7 linked regions of the Homo sapiens genome follow. The protein of the gene in region 1 interacts with the protein of each later gene in a pairwise test. Each region holds a gene or a part of one and is shown on either strand. Other genes may lie near its edges. The genes, in order: MFAP1, KATNBL1, MAD1L1, TLE5, ZFP41, TRIM41 and TCP10L.

Region 1 (3,500 bases):
CACCCACCTCGGCCTCCCAAAGTGCTGGGATTACAGGCATGAGCCACCACGCCTGGCCCTCAGCCTGTAGTTTCTAAGATTTTTATCCTGGACCTGTAGGAGTAGGAGTCTAAGTGCCCTTTAAAATTGTACACAAGGCCGGGCGTGGTGGCTCACGCCTGTAATCCCAACAATTTGGGAGGCCGAGGTGGGCGGCTCACAAGGTCAGGAGTTTGACACCCGCCTGTCCAACATGGTGAAACCCTGTCTGTACTAAAAATACAAAAATTAGTCGGGCATGGTGGCACACACCTGTAATCCCAGCTACTCAGGAGGCTGAAGCAGGAGAATAGCTTGAACCTGGGAGGCAGAGGTTGCAGTGAGCCAAGATCATGCCACTGCACTCCAGCCTGGGCAACAGAGCAAGATTCCATCTCAAAAAAATATAAAATTGTACACAAAATTGTGTGTATGTATGCATTTTATTTGGAGACAAGGGATATCACTCCCTCTCCCCAACACTGGCTAAAAAGTTACTGCAATCTGGCTGGGCGCAGTGGCTCACGCCTATAATCCCAACACTTTGGAAGGCCAAGGCGGGCGGATCACGAGGTCAGGAGATTGAGACCATCCTGGCTAACACGGTGAAACCCCGTCTCTACTAAAAATTCAAAAAGATTAGCTGGGCATGGTGGCGGGCACCTGTAGTCCCAGCTAATCGGGAGGCTGAGGCAGGAGAATGGCATGAACCCAGGAGGCGGAGCTTGCAGTGAGCCAAGATCACACCACTGCACTCCAGCCTGGGCGACAGAGCAAGACTCCATCTCACCAAAAAGAAAAAAAAAAAAAAAAGTTACTGCAATCTAATTAATGATGGTAATCTTTGGTTTATGACATGCAAGCACCTATATGATTATGATACACTTACATAAAGGAATACCAGCAAAGCCTCAGACACTTATTTTAAATTCACTGATTTTTTTTTTTTTTTAAAGCTAAGAAGACCTTTTAGGGAAAGAGAATTTGTAATGTTGGAAAACCCAGCAGTAATAGTATGTCTGAACGTCAGAAGGGCTAGAATCAACTTTTGAAAGTTGGCAATACCTAGTCTAGCAAACATAATGAAGACTAACTCACCCATTTGTTTATTGAGCTCCTTATCTTGATTCCTAATAGGCAATGACTAGAATTAAAGAAGGTGACTAATACTTGAAATGACATGGGACTGTTATTTTCAGATAATTTGGTCTTTCTGAAGCTGTAACAGTACCAATAAATTGTTTTGCTCCCTGGACAGGCTTGAGAAGGAGAAAGCAGAAATTGAACGCATGCGAAACCTGACTGAGGAAGAGAGGAGAGCTGAACTTCGGGCAAACGGCAAAGTCATTACCAACAAAGCTGTTAAGGGCAAATACAAGTTCTTACAGAAGTATTATCACCGGGGTGCCTTCTTCATGGTAAGAAGTGAAAAGAGAGTCAGAAAATTGGGCAGTAGGAATAACTCAGAAACTTTGAATTATTTTTCTCTTCAAGAATATTCTGGAATGTAATTTCCACTTGCCAGTGGTCAGCTTTCTCATTTGCTTTTTCCTTCTGAACAATATAAACTCAGAGAAAAGCATCAGCAATTGGATGACAGAAGTAGCATCAACTGTTCTCTCTTTTGGCCCCAACTCTCAAAAATAGGAAATGATGTAATAGACTTTTTTTTTTTTTTTAAGAGACAGAGTCTCGCTGTCACCCAGGCTGGGGTACGGTGGTGCGATTATAGTTCACTGCAACCTTGACGTCCTGCGCTTTACACCTGCTTCAGCCTCCAGAGTAGCTGGGACTACAGGCATGCAACAACCATGCCTGGCTTTTTTTTTTTTTTTGGTTATTTTTTTTTTAATTTTTCGTAAAGACCAGGTTTCACTATGTTGCCCAGGCTGGTGTTGACCTTCTGGCCTCAAGCAATCCTCCCACCTCAGCCTCCCAAAGTATTAGGAATACAGGCATGAGCCATCATCCCCAGCCTTAGATAAATTGAGGAAATGAAATAGAGAAGTGATCTGTACAGATAGTGGACTAATTAGGTCCTCCACATGACATAGTTGTCATTCTTTCATAGCTGAATGAGAAGTTTTGGTTATGTGAAAACCAAACTCTGCAAATAGCTTTACATTAATTCACTTTTGGGTGGCAGAAAGTTAGTTCACTTCATTCTGAACTGACAGTACCCAAGAGTAACTAACCAAAAAAAATGGTTTATTATCTAACCATTAGATGGAATGCCGTCATCTTTGTTTTTCATATAAAGACTAAGATCAAAATAGCAATCTGTTAACCCTGTATGGTTTATTTCCTAATGTTAAAGCAGTTTGCACCAAAAACTAGACTAGCTTTTTCAAGTGCCGTGTGGCAAATTCTAAATATCCCCACTGCAACTAAATTCCTGCCTTTCACTGCAGATGCTGTTAAAACTTCAGTGGCGGCTTCCCTGCCACCCTCCAAAATCAGTTTCAGGTCTATCTGATTAGCAGGAAGTGTTTACTTAGGTAGTTTTCCAGCAGATGTAGCTTACTATTCAGTGGAGATTATGAACTACTTCTTGTACTGCTTCGGTCATAAAGTTTGTTTGCTTAAGCAGTTCGCAGCTTTAATAATCAAGTTTCTTAGAGAAGCAGTTCATTGCTAGTTAAGATACATAAGAAAAGTGTATGTGAAAGTCCTTTGGTGGGCCAGGTACATTGGCTAATGCCTGTAATCTTAACATTTTGGGAGGCAAGGCCAGCAGATCAGTTGAGCCCAGGAGTTCAGCCCGGGCAACATGGCAAAACCCCATCTCTACAAAAAATACAAAAATTAGGCGTGGTGGTCCGTGCCTGTAGTGTCACCTATCAAGGGGCTGAGGTGGAAGGATTGCTTCAGCCCGAGAGGTTGAGGCTGCAGTCAGCCGTGATCGTGCCACTGCACTGCAGCCTGGGTGGCTGACCAAGACTTTGTCTCAAAATAAATTGTTTTTAAAAAGTCTTTCTTAAACAAGATAGTGCTATTTTTAATTCCTTCAGCATATGTGTTTATAAATATGTATCACAGCATTGTAATATTATCACTCAGGCTAGAGTGCAGTGGTGCAGTCATGGCTCACTGCTGCCTCATTCTCCTGGGCTCAAGCAGTCCTCCTGCCTCAGCCTCCTGAGTAATTGGGACTACAGGTGTGTGCCACCACACCTAATTTCTATTTTGTAGAGATGGGTTTTGCTATGTAGCCCAGGCTGGTCTCAAACTCCTGGGCTCAAACTCTCCTTCCACCTTGGCCTCCCAAAGTGCTGGGATTACAGGCAAGAGCAACTGCATCCAGCCTTACTAATGTTGTTTATTTCATTGAGTAAGTAAGCTTTAGTGCATATACTATGCAAAGGTCACTGTTTAGCACTGTTAGCGAGAATACATAATCACTATAACATAAGTAAAAGTAAAGTACTGTAGGGGTTCTGACGAGAGAGATGTTATATTTGGTAGAAGATTGAAAGGGTTGA
Region 2 (3,500 bases), 9.6 Mb from region 1:
GCATAAGCTAATTTCCAGATGGTGATAAATGTGGTGGGGGAAAAATACAGGGTACTGCTATAGAGAATGATTGTAAGTGAGGGTGGGGTTATTCTTGATTGGGTGGTGAGTGTGTGGGAGGAATATTTTAAGCAGAAAGAATGGCTCAGCCACAAAATGGAAATAAGTTTGAAATGTTGAAGGACAGAAGGCCAGTGTGGCTGAAGCATTTAGGAAGCTATTATATAGTCTAAAGGAGTTGGTGGTTTGGTCTAGAATGGTGGTAATGGAAATGGAAAGAAACGGACAGCTTGGGAATATATTATAAAGGCAAAGTCAACAAATTGGATGTAGGTTATTAAGGAAAAAAGAAATCAAGGATGAATCCTTTATTTCAGGCTTGAGAAATTGGAAGGAGGATGGTTCCGTTTACTGAGTTAGGGACTGTTGGGAGGAGCAGATTTGAGAGGGGGGATATTAAGGGTTCTATTTTTAATATGTTAAGTTCAAGAATAGATGACTATTGGATATCCATGTGGAGCTGGCTAGTAGGCAGTTGGAGATTTGAATCCAGAGTTTAGGTGAAACAGTATGATGAGAGATTTTATTTATTTATTTTTATTTTTTTTGAGACAGAGTCTTGCTGTCGCCCAGGCTGGAGTGCAATGGCGTGATCTTGGCTTACTGCAACCTCCGCCTTCCGGGCTCAAGCAATTCTTCTGCCTCAGCCTCCCCAGTGGCTGGGATTACAGGTGCCTGCCACCATGCCCAGCTAATTTTTGTATTTTTAGTAGAGATGGGTTTTCACCGTATTAGCCAGGCTGGTCTCGAACTCCGGACCTCAGGCAATCCGCCCACCTAGGCCTCCCAAAGTGCTGAGATTACAGGCGTGAACCACCGCGCCTGGCCGAGATTTTATTCTTAAATGAAAGTTAATATGTTAATTTTTGTTATAGTTAAGTCTTGGACACAGGAGTCATATTTTCTTGAGCCTGCAAGTGATTCTTCTGTTGGAGAAGAAAGTGTTCCCTGAGAGAGGAGGCATTTTCAAACCTTAATATACGTTCTGATTTCAGCCTAGGAGATATGGTGGTGCCCAACCACTGTAACTGTTGGGGATGTAATATAATCCTCACAAGTTTTGGAACATAAAGGTTTAAGAACCGTTGTTATAAAAAGATTTTGAATGTCTCTAGTATCATTTTTGTTAATTCTTAAAGGATGATCTACCCTTTTTTCCAAGGCTTAGGGTATACTTAACCCTGTTGACTTCTGGTACTGTAGAAATTAGGCACAAGTGTCGTAGGGTGGTGACATTAGTCCAAATAATGAAGATAGAGTTTTTTAATTAATTTATATTAGCTCATCATTTTGAGAGTTGAATACTACTTTATTGGTATATCCTCTCATATGTAGAGAGTCTATTGGTTTTGAAAGTATCAGAAATACCTTTAGTAGGCAAACAAGGGTCAAAAATGATCCTTAAAGTGACAATGTTTTATGTATGTATACATTCATCCCTCATTATCTATGGGCGATTGGTTCCAGGACCTCCCAATGATATCACAATCCGAGGATGCTCAAATCCCTGATATAAAGTGGTGTAGTATTTCCACATAACCTTTGCACATCCTCCCATACACCTTAAATAATTTCTAAATTATTTGTAATATCTAGTACAATGTAAATGCTATGTAAATAGTTGTTATACTGTATTATTGGGGGAATAGTGATGAGAAAAATAAGTCTACATATTCAGTAGAGATGTATTTTTTTTCTAAATAGTTTTGATTGGGAATTGATTGAATCCACAGATGCTGAACCCACGGATACAGAGGGCCAGTTGTATATATATTTTCCATTTCTGAGTCCAAGAAGACAATTAAAACAGAATCAAGTATTTTTTCCTCCCTGTTGAATATTTCCAGAAAATACTGGGTTATTCTAACAGGGAAAGTAAATTGGAATTTGGCGAATTCACCAAAACATGCTAGAATAATCATAACCATCTACTTCTAGGCGTAAGAAGTCCTAAGTCTTCCCAAAGATTCAGGTGTTTTATAGCCATTTAAGAAAATATGTATATAATACTCTAATACATTATAATTAAGTTAAAACATACTTGCACATTATACAAAATTCAAAAGGCCCAAAAGGGAAAAGTCTTCTCCCTTCACCCCCTAGCCACACATATCCTCTCACTAGAAGTGACTTTTGTCCCCAGTTTCTCTCATATCCTTCAAAAGATATTTAGTGAATATACAAGTAGTCCCTCACAGACACACACTTTTTAACCTAAGTGGTAACATAGTGTTTTGCTACCTTACTTTTTTCTCCCTACTTTCCAGTATAAGGCATAGTTATGTTTTTTAAAAAGCCTGTGTAGGTCCACAACTATGGATGGTGATAAACATCTACCTAGTTCTTTAATTTTATTTTCCCATTATTAGTCCCAGTTCCCTAATGTAGTAATCTAAGTGGACTTGATTAAAACTGAGGAAGAGGCCGGGTGTGGTGGCTCAAGCCTGTAATCCCAGCACTTTGGGAGGCCGAGGAGGGCAGATCACGAGGTCAGGAGATCGAGACCATTCTGGCCAACATGGTGAAACCCTGTCTTTACTAAAATACAAAAAATTAGCCAGGTGTGGTGGTGTGCACCTGTAATCCCAGCTACTTGGGAGGCTGAGGCAGGGGAATCGCTTGAACCTGGGAGGCAGAGGTTGCAGTGAGCTGAGATGGCGCCACTGCACTCCAGCCTGGCGACAGAGCAAGACGCTGTCTCAAAAAACAAAACAAAACAAAACAAAAACACTGAGGAAGAGGTAGTAGGAAAGCTAATTCCCACTTGGCATCTCTTTTGTAATTTTTATTTCAGGGTATCTCAGTCATAAGAGAGTTGGAATTCAGTTTGATCCAAATTGATTGAAATGATATAGTATTGTACCCACTGAATCTCCAGACATCTGTCTTTATTTTCATGCTTGATCTGCTTTCCCGAGTTTGACGTTATTTCTCAAATCAGCTTACTGTGGAAAACTGAATTAAGAGAAAGTGGTGGGCGGGGCGTGGTGGCTCACGCCTGTAATCCCAGCATTTTGGGAGGCTGAGGCAGGTGGATCAAGAGGTCAGGCGTTCGAGACCAGCCTGGCCAATATGGTGAAACCCCATCTCTACTAAAAATACAAAAAAAAAAAACAATTAGCTGGGCGTGGTGGCACGCACCTGTAATCCCAGCTACTCAGGAGGCTGAGGCACGAGAATCTCTTGAATGCGGGAGGCGAAGGTTGCAGTGAGCCGAGATGGCGCCACTGCACTCCAGCCTGGGAGACAGAGGAAGACTCCATCTCAAAAAAAAAAGAAGAGAGAGAGAGAAAGTGGTGTGATGAATCATCATTCAGGAAATATTAAACCCTTGAGATATCAACTTTGAGTTGTTCCGAGTAGGTGAGAGGTGAAGCCAGCTGGGTTTCTGGGTTGGGTGGGGACTTGGAGAACTTTTCTGTCTAGCCAGAGGATTGTAA
Region 3 (3,500 bases), on another chromosome or scaffold:
AATAACTTTTGTTTTCCTGTTCATTCCTACTTGTATTATTTCCTCCTCCTGCTTCGGGCTTGTTTTTCCCTTCGTTTCTTGAAGTAGGAATTTAGAGAAGCGATTTGAGATCTTTCTCCTTTCCTGATACAGGCATTGAGTGCTGTCCGTTTCCCTCTAAGCACTGCCTTGGGTGCGTCTGGCAAATTTCATTATGCTGTATTCTTGTTTCCATTCTGTTCTCTTTTTTATTTCCTTCGAGGCATCCCATTTGACTCGTGGATTACTTAGAAGTGTGCTGTTTAATTTCCAGGCACTTACAGTTTTCCTGTTGTCTTTCTCTGACTGGTTTCTGGTTTTGATGTCCACTGGTGTGGCCTCCACCTCTTCACGCCACCCCACAGATGAACAGCATTCACATAACTTCCCAGTATCTCGAAGTAGCATCGTTTCCATTTCCTGCGTGTCTTCTCATTTTACTGCATTATTTCAGCTTTCCTTGTTTGAGCCAGGATTCAGGGCTTCCTTCATTCCATCTCTAGCTTCCTCCCCTCGAGTTTCCCAGTTCATGGAGTTTCTCTTGGACCCTCAGCAGCAGGGGGTCTTGTTCTTGACAGGAATCCCTCACACTTCCCCCTTGGCCTCCGAGCCCCACCACATCCTGCGGTTGGTGGTGTGTGGAGAAAGTGGTGTGTGGAGAGAGTTGGTGGTGTGCGCTGTCTCTGCTCTCCAAGCCCTTTGTCAGCCCCCACCCCTCCCTCACTCCGTGCCTCTTGTCCGTGCCCGCTGGGACACCATGGGGCTCGGCTCAGGGGATGGTGGGACCAGCGCTTAGTAAGACTAGTCAGCCCTAGGCACCGAGTGAGCACTGCTCACGTGGCAGAGCTGGAATGGGGGCCGGGCACACAATCCCTGGCCCACGTGTTCCACGGACATGCTGCAGAGGTCCCCGGCCCTCCAGGGCAGGCCCTCTCTGCTTCCAGAGGGGCAGGTGAGCCCCAGGCCAGGCCAGCGAGGGTCTGGACTAGAGTGCAGTGGCCACAATGGACGCCGCGAGTGTCTTCATTAAGAGTGAGTGTCTCAGTCTCCCCCAGGGCGCCCGCCAGCCACAGGGCCGCTATGTGCGCAGACTAGACAGGTGGCAGCTCGGGCCGGCCAGGCAGAGGGAGAGGAAGCCAGAGCCTGCGCGCAGGCAGCCTCAGAAGTATTTCCAGCCACAGCCAACGTGTCTTACTGGCAATTTGCTTTTTAAAAAATTGCAGTTTAATTTTAAGTGAGCAGCCCGTAATTACAGTGATTTACGAGGTACCTGGGGACTGTGTGATATTTGAACATGGCAGAGGGCTGAGCAGCGATGGCAGAGATGGATGGGCCCGGCGCCACTCATTCAGCAGGTCCTGCTAATGCCGGAGCGTTAGACCGAGGTGGAGCCTCCCAATGTGGCTGGGTACGCTGGGGGAAACGGAGTCAGAGGTGGGCTGCACAGCAGGTCGACTTGTTCACCGGGGGCTGGTGTTTTGCAAACGCTGGGTCTGCCTTCGTGTGGGGTTTGAGCTGGGAGAGTAGCACTGGTTACTCCTGCCTGTCTCCGTCCACCCCCACCCCCACCTGGAGGGCAGCGCGGTATATTAGGGCATCATTCTTCCAGAGCCGCCTGAGGCCGGCAGAGAGGAGGTGCTGTAGGAGCCGTGAGTGGGTTGCCCGGCCTACCATTGGGAGCAGCTGTCTTGCTGACGCTGGCGGGGTGCACCTGTTTCAAATAAAGAATGATCAGAGCTCACGCCTGTAATCCTCACGTCGTGGGCAGCTGAGGCAGGAGGATCACGTCAGGCCAGGAGTTTGAGACCAGCCAGGCCAGGAGTTTGAGACCAGCCTGGGCAAAATAGCTAAAGTCTATCTATCTCTCAAAAAAATTTAAAAATTAGCCAGGTGTGCTGGCACATGCCTGTCATTCCAACTGCTCAGGAGGCTGAGGTGGATCACTTGAGTCCGGGAGCTCGAGGCTGAGTGACCCGTTATCATGCCACTGCACTCCAGCCTGGGTGACAGAGTGAGACTCGTCTCTAAAAAAAAATATTTTTAGAAATGAACGGCCAGGCTCCCAAAGCCTGCCAGCCTCTGAGGGCCGGGGAAGGCGGGTGCCTGGAAAACAGCTATTCTCTGGTCCAGCCTGGCCAGAGTCTGCACCACAGTGCGTCAGGCCCAGCCAGGTTGCCAGCCCTGGGTTGGGAGGAGGGCGAAGGGCCGGCTGAGGAGACTTCTTCCCACACTGCCTCCCCACCCCTGCCCGGCAGCTGCAGGAGAATCAGCCCCTCTGACATTTAGGGGGAGAAATTCAGAATCAAGAGCAGAAGGCAGAAGTGAAAGGATTTTCTCAGCGAAAGGTCAGAGTGGTTTCTCTTGTTTTTGTTTAAAAATGGTTTGTGTTGAACTATGACAAGGCCAAATGTACTAAGGCAGCAGAAACAGGGGGAGGGCAGGGGGAGGGCACGGGGACGGCTCCTGAGAAACAGGAGGTGCAGGAACAGGTCAGGTCGCAGGGCCTCTGGGGCAGCACGTGCTCCAAAGGTGGTGAGGGGAGGGGCGACACCATCAGGGCGGGGCCCAGCCCAGGCATGCTCCGGTGGACAGGGGAGCTGCCAGGACCAAGCTGGATGGAGCCAGGCCGCCCTGTGGCTCCTGGGGAGGGTTCCCAGAGGGCTGCCGGGCGGAGGGAGCGCTTTCCAAAACGGTTTCCTGAGCTCCGATGCACACACATGCAGCTCACCCTCACGTCTAGCGCTCCATTAGTCTACCGTTCCGTTCCTCCCGGCACATTCAGTGCGCAGCCGCGACCAGTCTAACCGTGGCACATTTCCACTGGCCCTGAGCCCTGACGTGCCCCTCCAGGACATCCCCTGGGCACGGAGTTGTGTCGACAGGTCTCTGTGACTGGCTGGGCGTGTTTTCGGGGTTTGCCCGCGTGGCAGCGTGTATCAGAGTTCGGCTGTACGAAGCGGTGTTGACGGGTAAACCCGGTTTTGTGTCTCCCTCCGGCGGTTGAGGGCTGGTTCCGCGTTCCATCTGTTGGTGATGGGATCGTGTTGCCGTGGACACCCGTGCCGAGGTCTGTGCGTGGACTGCGCTCAGACCCCCTGGCTGCGCGCCCGGGCGGGTGCTGGGCCCATGGACTCTGCGTCCAGCTCTTTGAGGAGCTGCCGGCTGTTTGCAGTGGCCGCACCACACACGCTCCCGCCAGCGACGCGGAGGGTCTGATTCCCCTCGACCCAGCAGCTCATGGTGGTTGCTCTCAGTGGCCGTCGGCGCGAGGCGGCTCCGTGTCTCGCTCAGTTGCGGTTCACGTTTCCCCGGTGCCCAGCGTCCTGGCATGAGCTCATTGGCCGTGTGTGGCTCTTCTCTGGAGAAATGTTCAAGGGCCCCTTGTTTAATTGGCTCTTTCCTCTTCATGGTGGAGTTGTGGGAGTTCTGGGCATATTCTGGGTACAGGACTTTTCAGGGACGTGGTTTCAGAGGGAGCTTTG
Region 4 (3,500 bases), on another chromosome or scaffold:
CCGACCCCCGAGGAATGTGCAGTCTGGCCTCATCCTGCACTTACCTCACTCTAAGCTGCAGGCGACAGCCGGTGTCCAGCCCCACCTTTGCCACTGACTGGCTGCCCTCGGGCCCGAACACGGCTTTGCTCATCCCACCCTGGCCAGACCTAGCCCCTCTTAGAAGCCGCAAGTGGCAGGGCTGGGCCGGGCCCCGCGCAGGCCTCCTGTGGCTAGCCTGCACCTGCCACCCGCCCAGGACTGAAGCCGGCTTCATCTGTGTGTTCCAGGCTGAGATCGTCAAAAGGCTGAACGGGATTTGTGCCCAGGTCCTGCCCTACCTCTCCCAAGAGGTAAGAGCCAGGGCCTTGGGGAGGGGTTGTGAGGGGGCCCCGCACTTGCCCAGCCCCTGTCCACTGCAGCCATCTTGGGTGGTGTGCTGGGCGCCCCAGGGCACACGCCTCCCCTCTCTGGACCTCCCTGGCTCTGAACACCAGAGCCGGCCTGTGCAGAAGAATCCCCGGGCCAGAGACACTCCAGGGGTGCAGGCGTGTGGGGGGCGGGCCTCACCCTGCTCTGGAATTCCCAGCTGGAGTGAGTCATGTCATAGGTAGAAATGTCAGATGGGCCTAAACTGCACCAGGAATGTTTTTTTCTCATCTCTCTTCCTCCTTTCACCCTCTTGAGACATCCTCCTCCAGGCCATGCGGGCTGCACAGGACCAAGGACTAGAGGGTGTTAGGGGATTGTGGGGGAAGGGGTAGCACAGGGTGGTCACACATGGACACAGCCACACAGATAGGCACGAGCACATCAACACACGGGAGATACACAGATGCAGACACGGATACACGTGTGTGCAGACAGCACAGGGACACGCATGCAGGAATGTGCAGCTACACGTGGGCACACGTGATCCTGAGCACACATTACCACATGCACACACACACCCAGATGAACCTGACGCCCAGCTCCTCTTCTCCTTTCTTGGGTTCTGAGGCTCAGGATGCGAGGCCGCCCCTCCCCAGGGCCATGTAAGGCCCATCTCCTGTCCCTGCCAAGTTTACTGTCAAAAGTTTGTAACTTCCTCTTCAATCCCTGTGGGTATCTCAGGATCCTTTGGGTGCCCTGCTTTGCCCAGGGACAAGTCTTAGCAGGACCCAATGAAAGCCCTAGAGAAAAGGGCACTTGGAGCCCTTCAGAACAGAGGCTTCCTGGTAGCCAAGGCAAAAAGGGAGATTGGTAGATTCTAGCATCTGCTGGCCACAGAGTCAGGTGTTTGGGGAGAGCTCAGGGAGGAACTGCCCTGAATCTGAGCCCATTCCCCAGCCAGCCCTGCCAGAATTCATTGGGCCCTCCCCAGCCATGGTAGGAGAAGGGCTCAATTTGGCCAGACTCAGGGCACAGTCTTGGAGCTCCTAGGATCAGGACGTCCCTGTACAGTTGGGCAGGTTGTGTACTGCACAAACATTCACATGTTTCACATCTTTGCAGGTGGCTGTGCACATAGGATAGGTCAGGATCCAGGGTTTCTCCCGGGCTCACTCAAAAGCTGTTTCCTAACTACTTAGCACAAAACCCTTTTAATTGTTTTCTGCACTTTTCCATTTGTCTCTGTTGGCCAGACGAAGAGACGAGCTTGGTGAAAGGAAGCAGTTGGAGAGAGGGAGGGTGCTTTCTGATGGGGTTGAAAACCACTGGGAGGAGCAGACATGATGGCCCACTTGGTAGTGGGGCTCCTCCTGGCCTCAGGGCCGTCCCCCTCTCCTCTCCCAGGATCAGGAGGAATCACTGCCTCTCCTCTCCCCCGACCCCCTTCCAGCACCAGCAGCAGGTCTTGGGAGCCATTGAGAGGGCCAAGCAGGTCACCGCTCCCGAGCTGAACTCTATCATCCGAGTATGTATGGGGACCTGGGCGGGTGGGCGGGGGACAGGTGGGCCCCAGGCAGCTAATGTTCCCCTCCCCCGCCCTGCAGCAGCAGCTCCAAGCCCACCAGCTGTCCCAGCTGCAGGCCCTGGCCCTGCCCTTGACCCCACTACCCGTGGGGCTGCAGCCGCCTTCGCTGCCGGCGGTCAGCGCAGGCACCGGCCTCCTCTCGCTGTCCGCGCTGGGTTCCCAGGCCCACCTCTCCAAGGAAGACAAGAACGGGCACGATGGTGACACCCACCAGGAGGATGATGGCGAGAAGTCGGATTAGCAGGGGGCCGGGACAGGGAGGTTGGGAGGGGGGACAGAGGGGAGACAGAGGCACGGAGAGAAAGGAATGTTTAGCACAAGACACAGCGGAGCTCGGGATTGGCTAAACTCCCATAGTATTTATGGTGGCCGCCGGCGGGGGCCCCAGCCCAGCTTGCAGGCCACCTCTAGCTTTCTTCCTACCCCATTCCCGGCTTCCCTCCTCCTCCCCTGCAGCCTGGTTAGGTGGATACCTGCCCTGACATGTGAGGCAAGCTAAGGCCTGGAGGGTCAGATGGGAGACCAGGTCCCAAGGGAGCAAGACCTCGCGAAGCGCAGCAGCCCCGGCCCTTCCCCCGTTTTGAACATGTGTAACCGACAGTCTGCCTGGGCCACAGCCCTCTCACCCTGGTACTGCATGCACGCAATGCTAGCTGCCCCTTTCCCGTCCTGGGCACCCCGAGTCTCCCCCGACCCCGGGTCCCAGGTATGCTCCCACCTCCACCTGCCCCACTCACCACCTCTGCTAGTTCCAGACACCTCCACGCCCACCTGGTCCTCTCCCATCGCCCACAAAAGGGGGGGCACGAGGGACGAGCTTAGCTGAGCTGGGAGGAGCAGGGTGAGGGTGGGCGACCCAGGATTCCCCCTCCCCTTCCCAAATAAAGATGAGGGTACTAAAGTTGTCTTGGTTTTTATTTTATTATTATTTTTTTCTTTTTCCAGTATACTAGCTTGTCTTTTAAGAAAGGGGATATTAAAAAAAAAAAAAGACAAAAGTGTTTTTAAAAAAAAGCAACACCCACACCTGTGTCTGTATATAGTCAGCTTATCTCGTGTTCAATCGTCTGATCTCTACAGAGAGAAGTGGAAAATGCTGTATCAAGGGTGGGCTTAGCTGTGCCTTTCCAATAAAGATGTGAGAAGCTTCGGTGCTGTGTCCCTGCCTCTGTGTTGTGGCTGCCCCCGGGGGAGGACGGGGTTCCTTCCAATGTGAGACATCCTCCTAGAACATCAGGAGTTCCTAGCTGTGGCCCGGTGCGGTGTGGCTCACGCCTGTCATCCCAACACTTTGGGAGGCTGAGGCAGGCAGATCACTTGAGGCCAGGAGTTCGAGACCAGCCTGGCCAACATGGTGAAACCCTGTCTGTACTAAAAATACAAAAAAGCTGGGCGTGGTGGTGGGCAACTGTGATCCCAGCTACTTAAGAGGCTGAGGCAGAAGAATCACTTGAATTCAAGGAGGTTGCGGTGAGCTGAGATCGCACCACTGCACTCCAGCCTGGGCAACAAGAGCAAAACTCCATCTCAAAAAAAAAAAAAATACAAAAAGTAGCCGGGCATG
Region 5 (3,500 bases), on another chromosome or scaffold:
GGGGACCACAGAAGGTTGGGGACCACTGCTTTAAACAACTAGCTCTCCCGTGAAGAGCAGGTCCCCACCCTGCTGTGTAGGGCAACAGCAGATGTCAATGGCATATGAATGAACGAGCGTGGCTGTGCCAATAAAACTTTATTTACAAACGTAGGAGGTGGGCCGGATTTGCTTGCCGATCCTGTCCTAGGTGAAGGGTGCATTCGAGCTCCTGGTATAGTTTGGACGTCTGTCCCCTCCAGATCTTATGTGGAAATGTGATCCCCAGTGTGGGAAGGGGCCTGGCAGGAGGTATTCGGGTCACGGGGACAGATCCCTCGAGAATGGCTTGGTGCCCTCCTCACAGTAATGAGTGAGCTCTCACTCTTGAGGTTCACTGGAGAGCTTGTTGTTTAAAGCAGTGGTCCCCAACCTTCTTGGCACCTGGGACCAGTTTTTTCCGTGGACAGGGAGTGGTGTGGATGGTTTGAGTATGAAACTGTCCCACCTCAGATCATCAGGCATTTGATTCTCATAAGGAGCGTGCAACCTAGATCCCTCGCATGCAGTTCACGGTGGGGTTCGTGGTCCAGTGAGAATCTAATGCCACCGCTGATCTGACAGGAGGCGGAGCTTAGGCGGTAACGCTCACTCGCCTGCCACCCACCTCCTGCTGTGTGACCCACTTCTAACAGGCCATGGACCCGTCTTGAGGTCAGGGACTCCTGCATTAAAGAGCCTGGTGCCTCCTCCCGTCTCTTGCTCCCTCCCTGCAGCCTCACCAGAAGCCAAGCAGATACCTGTGCAGCCTGCAGAACCGCCAGCCACGTAAACCTCGTTACAAAAACTTACCCAGCCTCGGGTGTTCCTTTATAGTAACACACAATGAACTAACACAACTCCCAGTCCTTGCACACGCTCTCTGTGTCTTAGTGTCCTTCAGAATTAGCTGTTGGCAGGGAAGAGCCGGCGTCAGGAGTCAGGAACTCGGACACAAGAAAGAAACCAGGGGGCGGGACAGGGAGCTGCTCAGAGCAGGCATCCTCTGCTGTCTGTCGGGATGTGCCACAGAGGGTGGCAAGTGTGGACACGGCTGTCTAGGATGGCCCAGGAGACGGGCACGCATTCCCTGGTGGTGTCTGCATTTGGTTTGATTTTACTTATGATAGTATGATCGTTGCTTTTCCCCGTTACTGACAATAGGGAGCGTTACTTTTTTTTTTTTTTTTTTTTTGAGACAGAGTCTCATTCTGTTGCCAGGCTGGAGTGCAGTGGCACGATCTCAGCTCACCACAACCTCCACCTCCCGCGGTCAAGCGATTCCCCTGCTTCAGCATCCCGAGTAGCTGGGATTTCAGGCACGCACCACCACGCCCAGCTAATTTTTGTATTTTTAGTAGAGACGGGGTTTCACCATGTTGGCCAGGAAGGAAGCATTACTTTTAATGCCTGCACAATGACCAGTTGAATCGAAAAGGCACAGGTGACTTATCCACTTCCCAGCATGGGCATGTGGGCTGTTTCCAACCTAGGTTATTATAAATAATGCCACAATAAATATCTTTTCCATATTTAGGGCCAATAGGACGGATTCCCAGGTGTGGATTGACATCTCACCAAATGCCAGCCCCAGGTCATGCCCACAGAGACGCCTGCAGCAGCGCATGGCTGGCAGGACCACCTCAGCCTCTCTAGCAGCAGGCAGGTGGGTTCCTGATCCTAAACTCACACTTTAATCTGATGTCTTTGATTTCTAGGACGCACGTAGTGGGTCAAGAGCATAGCTCTCAAGTCAGGGGCTGTGGACTTGACCCTCACTCTGGAACTGTGGGGCCTTTGCCTCAGTTTTCCCAGGTGTGAAATGGCGATGCTGACAGTGCTTAACCCCACAGGGTTGCCAAGAACAAGAACCGTAATACGTGACGTCGTAAGCACACTGCTGGATCCTACGAACTGTGTGACCGTGTCAGCTCGCCCCGTGTCTGGTGTTAGTGAGATCAGAGCTCGCCCCGCGTGCTGGTGTTCTTGAGATCAGGGCTCACCCCGCGTCTAGTGTTAGTGAGATCAGAGCTCACCCCGCGTGCTGGTGTTAGTGAGATCAGGGCTCGCCCCACGTGCTGGAGTTAGTGAGATCAGGGCTCGCCCCGCGTGCTGGTGTTCTTGAGATCAGGGCTCGCCCCGCGTCTAGTGTTAGTGAGATCAGAGCTCACCCCGCGTGCTGGTGTTAGTGAGATCAGGGCTCGCCCCACGTGCTGGAGTTAGTGAGATCAGGGCTCGCCCCGCGTGCTGGTGTTAGTGAGATCACGGCTCACCCCGCGTGCTGGTGTTAGTGAGATCAGGGCTCTCCCCGCGTGCTAGAGTTAGTGAGATCAGGGCTCGCCCCGCGTGCTGGTGTTAGTGAGATCAGGGCTCGCCCCGCGTGCTGGTGTTCTTGAGATCAGGGCTCGCCCCGCGTGCTGGTGTTAGTGAGATCAGGGCTCGCCCCGCGTGCTGGTGTTAGTGAGATCACGGCTCGCCCCGCGTGCTGGTGTTAGTGAGATCAGGGCTCTCCCCGCGTGCTAGAGTTAGTGAGATCAGGGCTCGCCCCGCGTGCTGGTGTTAGTGAGATCAGGGCTCACCCCGCGTGCTGGTGTTCTTGAGATCAGGGCTCACCCCGCGTGCTGGTGTTAGTGAGATCAGGGCTCGCCCCGCGTGCTGGTGTTAGTGAGATCACGGCTCGCCCCGCGTGCTGGTGTTAGTGAGATCAGGGCTCGCCCCGCGTGCTGGTGTTAGTGAGATCAGGGCTCGCCCCGCGTGCTGGAGTTAGTGAGATCAGGGCTCGCCCCGCGTGCTGGTGTTAGTGAGATCACGGCTCGCCCCGCGTGCTGGTGTTAGTGAGATCAGGGCTCGCCCCGCGTGCTGGTGTTAGTGAGATCAGGGCTCACCCCGCGTGCTGGAGTTAGTGAGATCAGGGCTCGCCCCGCGTGCTGGAGTTAGTGAGATCAGGGCTCGCCCCGCGTGCTGGTGTTAGTGAGATCAGGGCTCGCCCCACATGCTGGTGTTAGTGAGATCAGATATTGGTTCACACACGAAATGGGGGCCATGCAAACTGACTGCCTTGGATACTTCTCCAAGGAAAAGATGAGAGAGCTGGCTTCAACAAAATCGGCATGGAAAACAACAAAAGATACATTTTTGGGGCCAGATGTGGTGACTCACATCTGTAATCCCAGTGCTTTGGAAGGCCGAGGCAGGAGGATCACTTGAGGCCAGGAGTTCAAGACCTGCTTGGATGACAGAGCAAGACCCTGTCTCAAAAATAAAAGATACATTTTTTTAAATCCACTTGGAAATTTTTTTTAACGTTTATGGTTATGAGAAAAATTGCATAACCAAAACAAAACCAGTCTGCCATCTTTTTTGTCCCTATCATTTGGCACAGACAGACGAACTCCTGACGTCACAGCAGGACCAAGAGCTGAAGCCGGAGGCACAGACAGATGAATTCCTGATGTCATAGCAAGACCAAGAGCTGAAGCCGG
Region 6 (3,500 bases), on another chromosome or scaffold:
GGAGGATCAGGGCCATTTTCAGGGAGCTGTTTTAAAGGAAGAATACCTTGGGCCAAGTGGAGAAAGGCACTCCCAGACAGAGGGAACAGCATGGAATTATACTCAGGAAATGACAAGTAATTTTATGTGGTCAAACGTGTTAAGAGTCTGTGTGGAAGGCGTTGAGTGTAGAGGTGAGGCTGGAAGTGTGGGGTCAATGTTTTGGAAGTGGTGGTGACCCATGGAAAGGTTTTAGCATAGGAAAAAAATCATCAGAAAAGTATTTAGAGAGAAGAGTTCTGGGGAAGATCGCCTGTGAAGGGGAAGGGGACCAAAGGTGAGGGCACCCCTGGAAAGACTCTGGTGCGGGGCTCAAGCCACTTCCCCTCAGCTGTGAGCGTGGGAGCTCTCTAGTCTTGAGGCTCCTACCTTTAGAGAATACACACAGGGCCGGCCGGGCGCGGTGGCTCACGCCTATAATCTCAGTACTTTGGGAGGCTGAGGTGGACGGATCACGAGGTCAGGAGATTGAGACCATCCTGGGTAGCATGGCGAGGTGAAACCACGTCTCTACTAAAAATAAAAAAATTAGCCAGGCGTGGTGGTGGGCACCTGTAGTACCAGCTACTGGGAAGGCTGAGGCAGGAGAATCGCTTGAATCCGGGAGGTGGAGGTTCCAGTGAGCCAAGATCGTGCCACTGCACTCCAGCCTGAGCGACAGAGCGAGACTCTGTCTCAAAAAAAAAAAAAAAAAAAAAAAAAAAAAATACACACAGGGCTTCTGCAGACGTGCACAGAGGGATTGGAGGCTTTTGTCATCATCTGAAAGAAGAAAGTGGAGGAAGGTATAATACTCACTTGACACCCATTTTCGGGGGTAGGGATCAGGCTTTGACCCATCTTGCTATAGGGAGGATTGCAGAGGTAGGCTCTGAAGGGCAGGTGCCTCTCCCAGCCCCCACTTTTCTTTTTCTGTTTCCTCAGGCCAAACTGCAGGGGCACGTGGAACCACTGAGGAAGCACCTGGAGGCAGTGCAGAAGATGAAAGCCAAGGAGGAGAGGCGAGTGACAGAACTGAAGGTGGGTGAATGTTCTCGACGGGGCTGATGGGCAGTACAGTCGAGGCAAGGAAGGTAGGGCTTCCCACTCTCACAGGGAGTGACTTGGTCCCCTGAGGAGGGGACAGCTAAGGCCTGGGAGAGGGGTAGATGCTTTCCCTAGGTGCTGAGGAGAGCGGGGCCTTAGAGAATCAGGAGGCATGTTCATTCCTGGTTCCAAAATGGAGTGGAAACTGAGGCCTGGATTGGAGGGCCTAGGTGCCTGGCCCAAGGCTGCAGAACAGGCTTTCTACCCGACACCAGAGCCTGAAGGGGGCAAAGCAAAACCCACATAGCAGCCATCAGAGAAGCTGCCGGCCCCAGGATCCATGCAGGCACTGGGCAGAGCAGCCCTAAGCATGAGGCGGACACTGTCCTGGGACACTTGCTGTGTCCTGAGAGGGGGCCAGTGTGTTTAAGCTGGGGCAGGATTTAGTGTATGTTAGCACTGCAGAGACCTAATATTTCCTAGTCTAGTGTTTTCTCAGCACACCCCGACCCCCCCGCTTTTTTTGTTGTTTTTTTCCATTATTGCTCGCCCTTCTCCAAGGAGTCTTTTAAGATACATTTTCCATCCCCACCTCCCGCCTGTTTTCATAACCCCAGCAGGTCCTGCTGGGATGGGCTGGCACTGTGAGCTTCATAGACCAAGCCAGGACCTCCCCTTCTGTCCCTCTTCCCTCCTCCCTTCCCAGCCAGTGCCTGGGCCTTGCCACTACCCAGGGCCCATGCTCACTGCCACCTGAACGTTAGGGACTCTGCTGCTGGCGACTGCTAGGCACTGAATGGTAGGATCTGTCTGGGAGTAGGAAGTCATCGTGCTTCTGGCCAGCTGCCCAAGTTGATACTTTTGGGCTCTCCTGGGTATAGAGGTAACAGGAGCTGTGTGCCCCTGGCATAGAGTGAAGCTGACTGTGGCGGCTGTTCCCTCACGCGTCTGGTCAGTTGGGACCCTCCTCTGGCCTGCTGCTCACAGCGTCTGCAGCCGATGGTAGCTGTGTGAAAAGTGTGCCTACCACCCAGGAAGGGCCATCCCTGGCAAATAGGGTGGGACTGGGCAGGAGTTTTTTCTGTTACAGGATATTAAGTCCCTACATAATATCCTTGATTTTTGCCTCTTAGCCCACAAAGCATAAAAATACTTACTATCTGGACCTTCACAGAAAAAGTTTTTCCGAGTTCTGATCTGGGGCTTTTGGGTGACTTTCTTAAGGTCACTGTGTTTAATGGCGTCGGGACCCTAACTTCATGTTTTGATTCCTGAATTCTTTTATTTATTCATTTCAAAAATTTTTACCAGGTGCCTACTCTGATTGGTACTATGTCAGGGTCCGAGGACCCTGGCAAACAAAGACATTCCTAGTCCCTGTCAGTGGGAGCTCATGGTACAGTGGGGGAAAGGATGTTAACAGTTACGTCATTTAAACACAACGTTTCAATATTATATGTGCCACAGAGAGATACAGTGATATTTGTGGGGATGGTCCCGATTTAGATCTGGAGAGGAGGGAAGGCTTGTCTTGGAATATTTAAGGTTGGACCTGAAGGATGAGTCAACTTAGGTAGAGTCAGGTGGAGAGGAGTGTTCCAGGCAGAGGTTAGTGAGTTTGAGACCACTGTGCTGGGAGCAAGGGGGTGGTATCTGGTAAGGCTGGTAGGGGATGAGCCTCTTTCCGGGACTATCTTGGACCTGGGGAGTGTAGGGCTCCTTTGCCTTGCATTGAGAAGTAGTAGTTGCAAAACTGGAGGTTATCTTCGTACGTGTTGAGGTGGTGTCTGCCATCCCCTTTGCACCATTCCAGAGCCAGATGAAGTCAGAGCTGGCAGCGGTGGCCTCGGAGTTTGGGCGACTGACACGGTTTCTGGCTGAAGAGCAGGCAGGGCTGGAACGGCGTCTCAGAGAGATGCATGAAGCCCAGCTGGGGCGTGCGGGAGCCGCGGCTAGTCGCCTTGCAGAACAGGCCGCCCAGCTCAGCCGCCTGCTGGCAGAGGCCCAGGAGCGGAGCCAGCAGGGGGGTCTCCGGCTGCTCCAGGTGAGCAATGTCCCCTCCCTGTTCCCCCAGCATTCTGTGTTGGCTGTCAGGCAGTGCTTACCAAACGCCTGTCCAGAGCTGCCTCTTTTCTCCCTGGGAGGAACCCACAGTGATTGAACCTGAAGACCAAAAACATGTTTTAAAGCTGGAAACAGAGTTAATGTCGAATGTGGTATGTGTGGCGATTATACCCAGTGAAAAGCATGAAGATTCGGTTGTAGGAGAGGTTTAAATGACAGTTGAGGAAAGTCTTTTTGACAGTGACATCCTGAAAAAGGTGAGCAAGTCGTATTGTGGAAATGACAGTATCCCTGGGCTCACAGCAGGATGAGGCGAGTTAGGTATGGCGAGGCATGGGGTGGTTGAAATGGATGTGTGTTCATTGAGGGCC
Region 7 (4,139 bases), on another chromosome or scaffold:
CTCACACACCTCAGGACACACACACAACCCCTCACACACCTCAGGAACCCATATAAGGAACCCACACACCTCAGGCTCATACACACAAGCCCTCACACACCTCAGGAATCCACACACAACCCCTCACACACCTCAGGGTCTCACACACAATGTTGACACACCTCAGGGTCTCATACACAAACCCTCACACACCTCAGGACCCACACAATTCATCACACTTCTCAGGACACACATAAAACCCCTCACACACCTCAGGGGCCCATACATAACCCCTCACACACCTCAGGACTCACACACAATCCTCTCACACACCTCAGGACTCACACAACCTCTCACACACCTTAGGACCCACACACAACCACTCACACACCTTAGGACCCACACACAACCTCTCACACACCTTAGGACCCACACACAACCACTCACACACCTTAGGACCCACACACAACCTCTCACACACCTCAGGGACCCACACACAACCACTCACACACCTCAGGACCCACACACACCTCATACACCTCAGGGACACACACAACCCCTCACATACCTCAGAAACCTATATAAACTCTCACACACTTCAGGACAAACATACAACCTCTCACGCACCTCAGGACACACACACACACACTCGCACACCTCAGGACACACACACACACTCTCACAGTTAGAATGACACATGGGGACAAAAGTGCCTTCTGTTTCCTCTTTGTAGTATTCTCTTCATTCATTCATGACGTCGGCATTTACTGCCTATTGCATGCGAATCGCTTGCAGAACTATCCAAGTGACACACGTCCCAAGCAGGCTCAGGTGAGCCCCAGGTGTATGTTGTCCACACGCAGCACCATGGATGAGAAGGACAGCCAGGGTTTAACAGGAATATCGACTCTTGCTTGCTCCTCATTCTCTTCTCTATCACAAAAATCACACGGACAATTCAGATGGAGATGCATTTAGTGAAATGATGAAACTTTGAATCCTGTCTCCTATTTAAACTCACATATATTATTTTCCCTTCATAAAAATGTTTTTTCTAGTAAATAATTTGATATCCGAAGAAAGTTTGTATTTCTCCAAGAATGTATGCTCAGAGAAATGAGCTCTTACTACACGTTGCGTATTGAAGACTGGATATAAAACACATGGTTTTTGTCAATTTGGAGGAGTAGTTTGACTCTCTCCAATGTCCTTTGTGGATGGATGGACTCCACTGACGATGAGCTTCTATATTAAGAATTGCAGGTTTGGGGATGTTTAATTATTATCTGAGCTGGTACAGTGGTGACGCTGAGTGAGACGTTCATGTCCCTTTAAGACAGAAAGTCCGTTGGAACTGTCCGCTGCTCTCTGGTCTCTGGATATGAGGCAGGAGGGCTTGGGGACAACTGTGGGGACATGGCCCAGATGATCTGATCCTGGCAGTAGTGACTGTTGGGGACCAGGTGAGGTGACGAGGTCTGGTGGTGGGGCTGAAGGAAAGGGTCTTCCCTGGACTGAGGGGGTCATGAGTTTGGGGCCGAGGACACTGGGGTGTCCCCTCAGAGGAGCAGGAAAGAAGGAGCTTTCTCAGGGCTGTGAGGACCGTGACCCCAGCCCACTTCCGCAGAAACATTCCCAGTCTCCGCGGGGAAGGAATGGCAGTGATCTGGTTACTGGTAGGTCTTGCTCTAGACCTTCGATTCGCTTCCATCAGGAGACTCTCTTTTAAATAGCATTTCTCCGATCACTGTGGTTAAACTGTTCCTTCTCACACAGTTAGAAGTTTATGAATTAAACAGTCGGGGTTTCGTTGGGGGCCACTGGCTTCCTAAAACGGACAGGGCAAGGCAGGGGTGGAGGCAGCTTTCAGAGACGACCCTGCAGGCTTGCAGGAAAGCTTTGCGTTTTTCTCTTTCGTTTTTGTTCTCTAATTGCTGTGAACTTCCTAGAACTGGCATAAATGCTGTACCTATAAAAAGGTGTTTCCTTTCCACATCTTCACCATGAATTCACAAATGTCACCCTGATGGTTCAAGACACATACTCAACACGGTGGAGGGTCTGCCTGTGCCCCTCCAGGTGGGTGCTGATTAAAGGGCTGAGAATTCCCTCGGTGTCTCATGCGACCCTCCACTCACACCTGCTCACACCCTGAGACCATTCCACTCACACCTGCTCATACCCCAAGACCATCGTGCTCACATCCGCTCACATCCATTCACATTCCGCTCATATCCTGCTCACAACCCACTCACATCCCACTCACACCGGCTCACACCCCACTCACACCCCTCTTTGGATGACTGGAGTGTGTTAGGTGTCAGGCTGATCTTCTAGGATCTAAAGCATTTTCCACGGAGGATGGTGGAGAGCCAGGTGTGGACAGCTCAGTCCCTCTGTCTGTGGTGTCCTTTCACCTGGTCAGCTTCGGGCCTGGGAATGTGCACATGACCCAGGGGGAGAAGGAGCGGCTGCGGGTCCTGCTCACCCTTAGTTTGGGGCTGGGGCCTTCAGCCCACACTGACGGGGTAGGAGGGCTGCATTCAAGTGTCCCCATAGCCCTTCCCTTCCCAACCAGGATGCTGGCAGGTCAACTCGAGGCCAGGGACCCCAAAGAGGGCACCCACCCAGAGGACCCGTGCCCAGGAGCTGGGGCTGTCATGGAGAAGACAGCTGTGGCAGCCGAGGTTCTCACGGAGGACTGCAACACTGGGGAGATGCCAGTGAGTTGAGCTCTGTGGGGACAGAGTTAGTCCCACCAGGCGGGACCCTGATTCCTGTCCCTGAGGCCCGTCATTGGACTTTCCCTTGCTGGACCCCTGTAGGAATGCACCACCCCGGGACACTGATTCTGTACTTCCTCTCCAAGGGGCATGTGGCTCTTTCCCCCTCTGCAACCGTATCTCTTGGTGGATGGGAGGCAGGGCAGGGAGTTAAAGAAAATATTAACATTCCAGCTTTTCTCCTCTAATCCAGGAGAAGGCACCAGACTTTAAAAACTTCATTAAAGAAAATCAGAAAGTTGACATGCCTCACATCATCCCAGCAAGTTTCCTGATTTTTACCATCTTCCTCATTGGACCCTGTTGGACAGTGCTTGCTGTCATTAAAGTCCCACGGGTCCCTGTGGCCAGGGCCACCCAGTGCAGGACTGTACCTTTATCACGATCCCACTTATTCTCAGAGCAAGGCTGGAGGCTCTACGATCCAGTGAAGGATCCCAGGGGAAGGCTAACATGTTAGGTTGAAAATGCAGTGGCTTCCATAATTTTTTTTTTTTTTTTTTTTTTTTTTTGAGACGGAGTCTCGCTCTGTCGCCCAGGCTGGAGTGCAGTGGCGGGATCTCGGCTCACTGCAAGCTCCGCCTCCCGGGTTCACGCCATTCTCCTGCCTCAGCCTCCCACGTAGCTGGGACTACAGGCGCCCGCCACTACGCCCGGCTAATTTTTTGTATTTTTAGTAGAGACGGGGTTTCACCGTGTTAGCCGGGATGGTCTCGATCTCCTGACCTCGTGATCCGCCCGCCTCGGCCTCCCAAAGTGCTGGGATTACAGGCGTGAGCCACCGCGCCCGGCCGGCTTCCATAATTTTTAAACTATTGACCATATATCCATGCCAGTACAGCCTTTGAGACCAGTCTGGCCAACATGGTAAAACCCTGTCTCTACTAACAATAGAAAAATTAGCCAGGTGTGGTGGCATGTGCCTGTAATCCCAACTACTCTGGATGCTGAGGCACCAGAGTTGCTTGAATCTGGGAAGTGGAGGTTGCAGTGAGCTGAGACTGCGCCACTGCACTCCAGCCTGGGTGACAGAGAAAGACACTGTCTCAAAAAAAAAAAAAAAAAAAAAAAAAAAAGGAAAAGAATGCCAGCCTCTTTTTGCTGTAGTAGTGTTTTAACAAAAAAATCATAATTCACTAACCATCTTTATCTGGTTATATTATGTGGACTAACTCATAATAAACACTACTTAATAAGAATAAAGCTATGGCCAGGCATGGTAGCTTATTCCTGTAATCCCAGCACTTTGGGAGGCCGAGGCAGGTGGATTGCTTGAGCCCAGGAGTTTGAGACCAGTCTGGGCAACATGGTGAACCCCCATCCCGAGTAAAAATACAAAAATTAGCGAAGTATGGTGGCACATGCCTGTAGTCCCAG

Evidence for each region.
Region 2: the proteins of MFAP1 (region 1) and KATNBL1 interact in binary tests that used the Homo sapiens proteins (3 or more experiments, as listed by UniProt).
Region 3: the proteins of MFAP1 (region 1) and MAD1L1 interact in binary tests that used the Homo sapiens proteins (3 or more experiments, as listed by UniProt).
Region 4: the proteins of MFAP1 (region 1) and TLE5 interact in binary tests that used the Homo sapiens proteins (3 or more experiments, as listed by UniProt).
Region 5: the proteins of MFAP1 (region 1) and ZFP41 interact in binary tests that used the Homo sapiens proteins (3 or more experiments, as listed by UniProt).
Region 6: the proteins of MFAP1 (region 1) and TRIM41 interact in binary tests that used the Homo sapiens proteins (3 or more experiments, as listed by UniProt).
Region 7: the proteins of MFAP1 (region 1) and TCP10L interact in binary tests that used the Homo sapiens proteins (3 or more experiments, as listed by UniProt).

What each region holds. Positions count from the first base shown.
Region 1 is NC_000015.10:43,807,691-43,811,190, reverse strand, and holds part of MFAP1 (microfibrillar-associated protein 1), read left to right. Parts: intron 1-1,276; coding exon 1,277-1,436; intron 1,437-3,500. UniProt on the Homo sapiens protein: Involved in pre-mRNA splicing as a component of the spliceosome.
Region 2 is NC_000015.10:34,200,097-34,203,596, reverse strand, and holds part of KATNBL1 (KATNB1-like protein 1), read left to right. Parts: intron 1-3,500.
Region 3 is NC_000007.14:1,816,946-1,820,445, reverse strand, and holds part of MAD1L1 (mitotic spindle assembly checkpoint protein MAD1), read left to right. Parts: intron 1-3,500. UniProt on the Homo sapiens protein: Component of the spindle-assembly checkpoint that prevents the onset of anaphase until all chromosomes are properly aligned at the metaphase plate.
Region 4 is NC_000019.10:3,052,496-3,055,995, reverse strand, and holds the end of TLE5 (TLE family member 5), read left to right. Parts: intron 1-269; coding exon 270-332; intron 333-1,801; coding exon 1,802-1,876; intron 1,877-1,955; coding exon 1,956-2,177; 3' UTR 2,178-3,086; downstream 3,087-3,500. UniProt on the Homo sapiens protein: Transcriptional corepressor. Acts as a dominant repressor towards other family members. Inhibits NF-kappa-B-regulated gene expression. May be required for the initiation and maintenance of the differentiated state.
Region 5 is NC_000008.11:143,253,439-143,256,938, forward strand, and holds part of ZFP41 (zinc finger protein 41 homolog), read left to right. Parts: exon of another isoform or gene 1-153; intron 154-3,500. UniProt on the Homo sapiens protein: A putative DNA-binding regulatory protein associated with meiosis in spermatogenesis.
Region 6 is NC_000005.10:181,229,781-181,233,280, forward strand, and holds part of TRIM41 (E3 ubiquitin-protein ligase TRIM41), read left to right. Parts: intron 1-963; coding exon 964-1,059; intron 1,060-2,878; coding exon 2,879-3,109; intron 3,110-3,500.
Region 7 is NC_000021.9:32,582,724-32,586,862, reverse strand, and holds the start of TCP10L (T-complex protein 10A homolog 1), read left to right. Parts: upstream 1-1,339; 5' UTR 1,340-1,442; intron 1,443-2,557; 5' UTR 2,558-2,558; coding exon 2,559-2,702; intron 2,703-4,139. UniProt on the Homo sapiens protein: May be involved in transcriptional regulation. Has in vitro transcription inhibition activity. Acts as a tumor suppressor in hepatocellular carcinoma (HCC) cells.